Linked DNA regions of Homo sapiens. The protein of the gene in region 1 purifies or fractionates together with the protein of each later gene. This does not show direct contact. Each region holds a gene or a part of one and is shown in the gene's direction. Other genes may lie near its edges.

Region 1 (3,094 bases):
GCTGAGGCAGGATGATCTTTTGAGCTCAGAAGTTCAAGACCAGACTGGGAAACATAGTGAGACCCTGTCTCTACAAAAAATAAAATTAGCCGGGCATGGTGGTGTGCATTGTAGTCCCAGCTACTCAGGAAAAGCATTTGAGCCCAAGAGGTCTAGGCTTCAGTGAGCTATGATCATGCTGCCACTGTACTCCAACCTGGACAACAGGGCGGGACCCTGTCTTAAAAAAAAGTGGGAAGAGAGGTATGGGGGTGCCTCACACCGATGTTAGGAAACACAGGGCTAGATTTTTTTTTTGGAGACAGGGTCTCACTCTGTTGCCCAGGCTGGAGTGCAGTGGCACAATCATGACTCACTTGCAGCCTCGATCTCCTGGGCTCAAGTGATCCTCCTGCCTCAGCTTCCAGGGTAGCCGGAATCACAGGCCAGTGCTACCACACCTGGCTATTTTTTTTTTTTTTTTTTTTGAGACGGAGTCTTGCTCTGTCTCCCAGGCTGGAGTGTAGTGGCCCGATCTCGGCTCACTGCAAGCTCCGCCTCCCGGGTTCCCGCCATTCTCCTGCCTGAGCCTCCCGAGTAACTGGGACTACAGGCTCCCGCCAACACGCCCGGCTAATTTTTTTTTTCTGTATTTTTAGTAGAGATGGGGTTTCACTGTGTTAGCCAGGATGGTCTTGATCTCCTGACCTCGTGATCCACCCGCCTCGGCCTCCCAAAGTGCTGGGATTACAGGCGTGAGCCACCGCGCCCGGCCCAACTGGCTATTTTTTAAAAAGTATTATTTTTAGTAGAGACATAGACTCTCTATGTGGCCCAGGCTGGTCTCCGACTCCTGAGCTCAGGCAATCCTCCTGCCCCAGCCTCCCAAAGTGTTGGGATTATAGGCATGAACCAATACACCAACCCTCCCACTTTTTTTAAGGTTGGCAGTTTCTTGGAGTCCCTGCATGAGGGTATTTGCACTTTCACAATCAGGTCAACAGACAGGGTGGCAGGTAAGGATTCAAGGGCTTCTGGAAGACTCTCCACTGCCCACAAGCTGGGGACCTCTCCCCACTAGATCTAGATGAAGTCCAAGAAGTGGTCCACATTTGCCAGCCCTTTCTTGGGTTCTTACAGGCATGTGGTGTGCCTTCCAACAGACTTCATCTTTCTAAGTAAGATGAGAATCCCCACTTACTGGAACCCTACTGAGCGAGCTTTGGAGTGTTAGTTAAATTTAGTATTTGGAAGCCGGGCGTGGTGACTAACACCTGTAATCCCAGCACTTTGGGAGGCTGAGGCAGGCAGATCACGAGGTCAGGAGATCAAGACCATCCTGGCCAACATGGTGAAACCCTGTCTCTACTAAAAATACAAAAATTAGCCAGGCATGGCAGCGCATGCCTGCAGTCCCAGCTACTCAGGAGGCTGAGGCAGAAGAATTGCTTCAACCCAGGAGGCAGAGACTGCAGTGAGCCAAGATGGAGCTACTGCACTCCAGCCTGGGCGACAGAGCAAGACTCTGCCTCAAAAAAAAAAAAAAAAGATTGGGCATGGTGGCTCACACCTGTAATCCCAGCACTTTGGGAGGCCGAGGTGGGTGGATCACGAGGTCAGGAGATCGAGACCATCCTGGCTAACACGGTGAAACCCCATCTCTACTAAAAAAATACAAAAAAATTAGCCGGGCATGGTGATGGGTGCCTGTAGTCCCAGCTACTTGGGAGGCTGAGGCAGGAGAATGGCAGGAACCCGGGAGGCGGAACTTGCAGTGAGCAGAGATCGCACCACTGCACTCCAGCCTGGGCAACAGAATGAGACTCCATCTAAAAAAAAAAAAAAAAAAAAAAAAAAAAATTAGTATTTGGAAACAAAAATTAGCCCCACAATTAGAATTTACCAAGGAGATAATTCAGTAGCTTATGGAAGACTGGCTGCTACTCACATCTTGGCTACAGAGCAAAGAACCTACCTGGAATATGTGAGCAAGGATTTTGGCCATTTTGGGAAAGGGTATTTGATTATCAGAGTTTCATCGAGGATGGTGGATCTGCTCCTGTTTCCAGCAGCTGCCGTTCTGGCTTTTTAATTATAAGTTACTGTTAGTTTGGTTTCATCATTATTAATTTAGTTTGTTGCATGTTTGGTTTACCCTGCAGTATGTAAGGATGCATGTTTGCCACAACAGTGTTCTGGCCTATAATTTTCCCTGGAACTGGGAAACATGCACTCTTTAAAACCTGTTTTTGTTTTTGTTTTTCCTTTGGTTTTGTTTGTTTTCCCTAGGGGAAAGTGGAGGAGGATGGCCCCAAGTGCCTGCCTTTGCTTGAATGATTGTGGCCTGGTTTAGAAGAGTGGTCTTTTAAGTGTGGGGACAGAAAGAAAATATTATAACTTGTATTTATTTTTTTTTGGTGCATACTGTTTAATTTTCTATGCTTCATAACGTACACAGAAGTGGGTTTTCAAAATTTTGTGCTATCAAAATGTTAGGAGATAAGGCCGGGTGTGGTGGCTCACACCTGTAATCCCAGCACTTTGGGAGGCCAAGGCAGGAGGCTTGCTTGAGCCCAGGGGTTTGAGACCAGCTGGGGCAAATGGTAAGACCCTGTCTCTATAAAAAAAAATTTAAAAAATTAGCCAGGTGTGGTGCTGCCCACCTGTGGTCCCAGCTACTTGGGAGGCAGAGGCAGGAGGATTGCTTGAGCTTGGGAGGTCCAGGCTACATGAGCTGTAATCACACCACTGCACTTCAGCCTGGGCCACAGAGAGAGACCCTGTCTCCAAAAAAAAAAAAAAAAAAGGAGACAACTGACAACTGAATGATTCAGAACCAGACCTTGGGGTGGAGACAGAGTAGACTGTGGGAGGGACTGTCTGAGGCAGTGAGTACTATTTCTGGTGCAGCCACTAACTTGCTGTGTGTCCTTGGCTGCACAAATCACTCCTGGGCTTAAGTTTTTCATATGAAAACTGAAGATGCTTCTGGTAGCTCTCAGGACCTTCCAATTCTGTTGTCTGTAGCGGGGCTTGTATGATTCTCATGGAGGACACCAGGTAGGACCTCAAGCTGAGAGGGGTGGAAAGGCAAGGGAGTGTCACAGCAAGCTGA
Region 2 (3,654 bases), on another chromosome or scaffold:
CTTTGGAAGGCCGAGATGGGCGGATCACCTGAGGCCAGGAGTTCGAGACTAGCCTGGCCAACATGGTTGAAACCCCGTCTCTACTAAAAATACAAAAAAATTAGCTGGGCCGGGTGCGGTAGCTCATGCCTGTAATCCCAGCACTTTGGGAGGTCGAGGCGGGCGGATCACATGAGGTCAGGGGTTCGAGACCAGCCTGACCAATATGATGAAACCCCATCTCTACTAAAAATAGAAAAATTAGCCGGGTGTGGTGGCGGGCACCTGTAATCCCAGCTATTTGGGAGGCTGAGGCAGGAGAGAATTGCTTGAAGCTGGGAGGCGGAGGTTGCAGTGAGCCGAGATCGCACCCTCGCACTCCTGCCTGGTTAATAAGAGTGAGACTCCATCTCAAAAAAAAAAAAAAAAAAAAGGCCAGGTACAGTGGCTCATGCCTGTAATCCCAGCACTTTGGGAGGCCTAGGTGGGCAGATCACGAGGTCAGGAGTTTGAGACCAGTCTGGCCAACATAGTGAAACCCCGTCTCTACTAAAAATACAAGAAGTTAGCCGGGTGTGGTGATGTGCACCTGCAATCCCAGCTACTTGGGAGGCTGAGGCAGGAGAATCACATGAACCCGGGAGATGGAGGTTGTAGTGAGCCGAGATTGTTCCACTGCACTCCAGCCTGGGTGACAGTGCGAGACTCTGTCTCAAAAACAAACAAACAAAAAAATCAGCTGGGCATGGTGGTGGGTGCCTGTAATCCCAGCTACTCGGGAGGCTGAGGCATGAGAATCGCTTAAACGTGGTAGGCAGAGGTTGCAGTGAGCCGAGATTGCGCCATTGCACTCCAGCCTGGGCAACAGAGCGAGACTCCATCTCAAAAACAAAACTAAAAACAAAAAACAAAAAGGGACACAGCTTGAATCACTGTGTGAGGAGCAGGCCCATGCACTGAGCTGGGAAAGAACAGGTTTGCATTGGGCATTGGGGCACTGAAACTGGAAGATGAGTTCTTATAGGGGGTGTGAAGTTTTACTTGAGTTGCAATTATTATGAGTTTATTTTTTTCTCTGATTATAAAAGTAGTATGTTTCTGGAAGACATTTTGGCTTTGGATATCAAGAGCTTTAAAGTTAAGCAACCTCTTTGACTGGGCAATCTCTCCTATAATTGGTCCTTAGGATAATTAAATATGTATGTAGAGATGTTCATCATTTTTTTTTTCTTTTTTTGAGATGGGCTCACTCTGTTACCCAAGCTAGAGGGCAGTGGCATGATCATGGCACACTGCAGCCTTGACCTCCTGGGCTGAAGGAGCTGATCCTCCTGCCTCAGCCTTCCAAGTACCTGGGACTACAGATGTGCACTACTACACCTGGCTAACTTTTTATTTTTTGTAGAGACGAGGCCTTGCTGTGTTCCCCAGGCTGGTCTCAAACTCCTGAGCTTAAGTTATCTCCCAAAGTGCTGGGATTATAGGCGTGAGCTGCCACACCAGGTCCACCACATTTTTTAAAGGGAGAAAAGCCCACCTATGTGAGGTTCTTTGAGTTGGTGCTGTGCCGTGTTTGAGATATGATAAGGAAGATACAGACACAGAGTTGGCCAAAGCCCTGACACCCACCCAGTCACAGCCACACCAGAAGCCCAAGTCCCAGAGAGGCAGACAGGCAGCTCTATGAACCCACATCCCCTACACTGCTCCTCTTGGGTGCTCTGCTCCTGCGTGGGAGTTCTCCTTGGCTAGGTCCTGCACTAGTCTAGGGTGTCAGTTCCCGGCTAGGCAGAGGGCACCTCCATCTCTGCCTAGAAGGCCTGGCACTCATCACAGTGTGGGGGTGGCCAGGGCGTGCTTCTGTGGCAGCCACACCCCTGACAGCCATCTGTCTAGACCTCCTTTTTGCAAAGGCATCACAGGTGAAACCTGCTACATTGGGGTGATGGGCACCTTTCTGCCAAGCTGCCCTCCAAAGCTGGACTCTATGCCCACCCTCAACATCCTTGACAGTCTTGCCAACCTTCTGCCCAACATTATCTCTTGTCCGTCCTCTCAAGGGCCTCTGTACTCAGGCCATAATTGACCACTCCCTGAATACCCACTGCAGCTCCTACTTCTGCTCATCTGTCCAGACAGCTGCATTTGTCTGGAACAGAACACATGCCCTTCTCCTTGTTCATCTTCTCAGCCCAGCTCAAGAGACCCCCTTCTGGCCAGGCACGGTGGCACACACCTGTAATTCCAGCACTTTGGGAGGCCGAGGCAGGCGGATCACTTGAGGTCAGGAGTTTGAGACCAGCCTGGCCAACATGGTCAAACCCTGTCTCTACTAAAAATACAAAAAATTAGCTGGGCATGGTGGCTCATGCGTATAGTCCCAGCTACTCTGGAGGCTGAGGCAGGAGAATCGCTTGAACCCAGGAGGTGGAGGTTGCAGTGAGCTGAGATCACACCACTGTACTCCAGCCTGGATGACAGAGTAAGACTCCGTCTCAGAAAAAAAAAAAAAAAAAAAATTAATAAAATAAAAAAGAGACCCCCTTCCTGGCCAGCTCCTCTGGCAGAGGCAATGCCCACACTCTTAGTACAGACCCCTAGTGCAGCATCCATCACTGGCTTTGGTCTCTGACCCCACTGTTGTACCAGGAGGGTAGAGTCCAGGTTGACGTGTCCCTGCAAGGGGCTTAGATGGGTATCAGTGAGTGCTTATTGATTGAAGCATCAATCAATGCCTGATGGGCATCAGAGACCTTTCCTTGGATCGGTACTAGGCCTCTGGAGCAGCTTGGAAACCTGGGCTTTTGGGGAAATGTTTGGGAGGCTGCCTGAGGGTGGAGGGATGGCAAGGGAAGAGCTGGGAGTGGGGAGAAAGCAAGTTTGTGTGTTCAGACAGCTGGGACAGACGGAGGACTGGGGCACTGAGGCTGGGGATTTCCATGTCACGTTCACTCACTAAACCGGGAGTTCTCAACCTTGGCAGTCACCTGGGAGCCACACTGTGGGCCACAGGAATAGGAGTCTCTGGGAATGAGGCCAAGGTATCTTTTTTTTTTTTTTTTTTTTTTTTTGAGACGGAGTTTCGCTCTTGTTGCCCAGGCTGGAGTGCAATGGCGCGATCTTGGCTCACCACAACCTCCGCTTCCCAGGTTCAAGCGATTCGCCTGGCTCAGCCTTCCTGAGTAGCTGGGATTACAGGCATGTGCTACCATGCCTGGCTAATTTTGTGTTTTTAGTAGAGACAGGGTTTCTCCATGTTGTTCAGGCTGGTCCCGAACTCCCGACCTCAGGTGATTCCCCCCGCCTTGGCCTCCCAAAGTGCTGGGATTACAGGCATGAGCCACCGCGTCTGGCCTGGGTATCCTCATTTTTTAAAGCTTCTGAGGTGATTCCAATGTGAGCGCCACGGCATTCAGCTTTTGCTAAGCTGCATTCAAAACTATTTCATGGTTATTGAGAACATGGGATCTGTCCTCAGACCGTCCAGACTCAAATTGCAGCCTCCTCTTAGTGTGTGGCTCTGGACAAGTGACCTAACCCTTGTAAACTTCAGTTTCTGAATCTGAAATGGGGATGACAGCAGTACTGAAATCACAGGGTTGTTTCTGGGATGAAATGTGGTAGTTACCTGTAAAGGACTTAGTACAGGGCACATGACAGTGATCATAACGATAA
Region 3 (3,654 bases), on another chromosome or scaffold:
GTTTATTCCAAAGAAATCATAAACATCAGTTCTGTGGCACAGTTGAGCCACTTTCAGAAGGATATAACTCACCATCCTCCCTGTGTATTCACTATAGATCTTGGGGGTTAGCAGCGGGGCCATTTACTGTTGTGCAGGCCTGTGGGATTCCAGCCGGAGAAGAGTCAGGCTTCCCACACCAGCAAGTTATACAAATAATTAACATTCAGCAAGTGCCCACTCTGCACTAGGCACATCTCCAAGCACTTTACACTGATTTTCTCATTTATCACAACAGTCCATCAAGATATCTTATTATTATTCCCATTTTACTGGTGTGGGAGCAGAGACACAAAAACACGAAGTCACTTGGCCAAAGTGACTTTCAGTGAGTGGAGGAGTCAGTACTCAGACGCAGGCAAGATCATCCAAAATTCGCCTCTTCTTTTTTTAGAGAAAGGATCTTGCTTTGTCACCCAGGCTGCAGTGTGGTGACTCAATCATGGCTCACACAAACCTTGAACCCCTGGGCTCAAACGACCCTACCACCTCAGCCACCCCAAGTAGGTAGGACTACAGGTGCACACTTCCATGCCTAGCCTATTTTTGTATTCTTTATAGAGACAGGGTCTCATCATATTGCCCAAGCTGGTCTCCAACTCCTGGATTCAAGGACTCTTCCCACCTCAGCCTCCTACAGTGTTGAGATTACAGGCACAAGTCACTGCACCCAGCCCAAAACCTGCCTCTTGACCACCAGTCTGTTCCATGTATTTCTAATATGAGCAACAGCTCTTAGTCATGCATTCCCACCATCCACCCACCCAAAAGGAGAGCAGCCAATCTGGGGTCCCAAGTTTAATGGAGGAAGAGAATTTACCCAGAATAGTTTGTTCATATTCACACAGTGGTTTTAAAAACAAAAAAATTGATTCTGCTCCAGAATATTCTAGGTGCATTTTCTGACCTTCTTTTTCTATTGCAGATTAAGAAATGGGGCCAGGGGAGGGAAGGGGGGTGTGATTTCTTTTCAGGTTATTTTTTAATATTTATTTTTAAACAAATTCCATTATTTGGAGGCTTCTGGTGTTTAGACTTCAAATCTACTAATCTTAGTCCATAATTCACTCATGGGACAGTCCCTAAACATTTTTCCAGAGACAGTTCTGAGACAGGGTTTGTTTAAAACTCTGTGACAAGGTGAGAAAAGATCTATAAGTCAGAGAAACAAGACTCCATCATCTCTACAAAAAAATTTTTTAAATTATTAGGTGCGCGTGGTGGCACATGCCAATAGTGCCAGCTACTCAGGAGGCTTGAGGTGGGAGGACTGCTTGAGTCCAGGAGTTTAAGGCTGCAGAGAGCTATGATTGAGCCACTGCCCTCCAGCCTGGGTTACAGTGAGACACTGTCTCTAAAAAATAACAAAATTTGGGGTCAAGTGTGGTGGTTCACACCTGTAATCCCAGCAGGAGGATCGCTTGAGGCCAGAAGTTTGAGACCAGCCTAAGCAGTATAGCAAGACCCAGTCTCTACAAAAAAAAAAAAAAAAATGGAAAAGGAAAAATAAATTAGCCAGGCCTGGTGATGCATACTCATAGTCCCAGTTACTCAGGAGGCTGAGGCAGGAGGATCACTTGAGCCCAGGAGCTGGAGGCTGCAGTGAGCTATGATTGCACCACTGCACTCCAGCCTGAGTAGCAGAGTGAGACCTTGTCTCAAAAAATACCATTTTTTAATTTAAAATTTAAAAATTTTAAAAATTAAAAGTCCAGACAACTGCAGGGCTTTGGGCGATCCCTTTTCTTTCAGAGCCATTTCCTCCTCAGTGATATGGAACTATGCATCCTCAGGCAGTATGCAGGTGGCACAGGGCTGTGTGTCTGTAAGCACTTAATAAAACAAGTTCAAATGTAGGACACGAGCTCTCCTCTCTGCCCCCTCCTCTTCTCTAGGACACGGAAGTTTCCAATCAGATCACCCTCGTGGAAGACGTCTTAGCCAAGCTCTGTAAAACCATTTACCCGCTGGCCGACCTCCTGGCCAGGCCACTCCCGGAGGGGGTCGATCCTCTGAAGCTTGAGATCTATCTCACCGACGAAGACTTCGAGGTAAGCGGTTCTTCCGGTGGGGTGGGGATGGGAGTAAAACAACACACGCACGCCCGGCTCCTTTCACTGAGCCGCGGGGCGCTTCTCCCAATGTTTCCAGTTTGCACTAGACATGACGAGGGATGAATACAACGCCCTGCCCGCCTGGAAGCAGGTGAACCTGAAGAAAGCAAAAGGCCTGTTCTGAGTGGGGAGACGCCAGAGGAGCCTCACGGTCACGTCCAACAACACCACTGCACCAGGGAAATGGATATATATTTTTGGACTGGTGTTTTTCACAAAGTATTTTTCAATCAGAGTTTTCAGAACCTGACATTGTTAAAGATACTGCTTGTCCCGGAGTTGTGTATTTTGTAAATGTTCAAGGGAACTGTTTGGAAACTTCTTTCCACCATTCAGGAGGTTATCAGAATTAATAAAAGTATCTGTTATGTGCACTTAAGCCGCAGCTGCTATAGATAGCACTGCCTTCTTGTTCCAGCTAGGCAATGCCTTTTTTTTTTTTTTTTGAAGCAGTTCTCTTTATAAAGTGTTATTTTGATAGTTTGTGGATTCTAAAATATATATATATTTATATAAACACCATATAAGTCAAATATGTATTTAACAAAGCAATATGTATTCATTCACTTTCAAGATTTGTTTTGGTGTCAAAATAACATGAAAAGGTAGATGGAGTTGCTTCTGTTGAATTAGCTCTGCCACCAATATGTATCTTCATACACGTTTGGAAATGTTTCCTGCAGCATTAGGTATGACTTGTTCTGAGTACTGCTTCCGGTGCTAAAATGAACAAAGAATTTGTACTTAATGGCATGGACTCTGGAGAATCTATGCGAATCAACCTTTCTACCTTAATATCTCCCCAAAAATGTATAGTGCCTTGTTTTTATGTACAGTTTATATACAGAAAAGTTTGCTCTGCATTTTTGATGATGGTTTGGAACATTATCTACAATTTTACTCTCAAATAGTCAAAATAAAAACATCTCAATTTCTAATACCGGTTGTAAACAGTACACATGTCATTTTGTGATATAGGACTCCCAAATAAAAGTATCAGAATAAACACAACAATTAACTGGTTCACATTGAATTCCAAGCATGTTCCTTTCTGGAATTTTTTTTTTTTTTGGTAAATATTAACATAGCACCAAATTTTGTAATTAAGTATAAATGACTATACATTTGAATTTAGTTTAGGGCAAGATTTTATACAAGGTCATAAGATTAAATACAGAGTTATTTGCCCCATAAAATTAGTACTCAGTACTATAATGAAGACATACTTTTGCAAATCATCATTCAGCAGAAGTTCTTTATCCCACAGCTATATCTATCTACAATTTCAATTTTAGGATCTCAATGCCCTTTAAAAAATTGTATGGGCCAGGCGAGGTGGCCCACACCTGTAATCCCGGCACTCTGGGAGGCTGAGGCAGGCGGATCACCTGAGACCAGGAGTTCAACAGCAGCCTGGCCAACATGTTGAAACCCAGTCTCTACTAAAAATACAAAAATTAGGCATGGTGGCACATGCCTGTAATCCCAGCTACTCAAGAGG

Evidence for each region.
Region 2: the proteins of ASB16 (region 1) and AHCY purify together in Homo sapiens (affinity purification with mass spectrometry, with the first as the bait; one large-scale study listed by BioGRID). This does not show direct contact.
Region 3: the proteins of ASB16 (region 1) and SVIL purify together in Homo sapiens (affinity purification with mass spectrometry, with the first as the bait; one large-scale study listed by BioGRID). This does not show direct contact.

Annotation. Positions count from the first base shown.
Region 1 is NC_000017.11:44,173,591-44,176,684, forward strand, and holds part of ASB16 (ankyrin repeat and SOCS box protein 16), read left to right. Parts: intron 1-2,382; exon of another isoform or gene 2,383-3,094. UniProt on the Homo sapiens protein: May be a substrate-recognition component of a SCF-like ECS (Elongin-Cullin-SOCS-box protein) E3 ubiquitin-protein ligase complex which mediates the ubiquitination and subsequent proteasomal degradation of target proteins.
Region 2 is NC_000020.11:34,286,231-34,289,884, reverse strand, and holds part of AHCY (adenosylhomocysteinase), read left to right. Parts: intron 1-3,654. UniProt on the Homo sapiens protein: Catalyzes the hydrolysis of S-adenosyl-L-homocysteine to form adenosine and homocysteine. Binds copper ions.
Region 3 is NC_000010.11:29,456,870-29,460,523, reverse strand, and holds the end of SVIL (supervillin), read left to right. Parts: intron 1-1,934; coding exon 1,935-2,090; exon of another isoform or gene 2,091-2,190; coding exon 2,191-2,277; 3' UTR 2,278-3,186; downstream 3,187-3,654.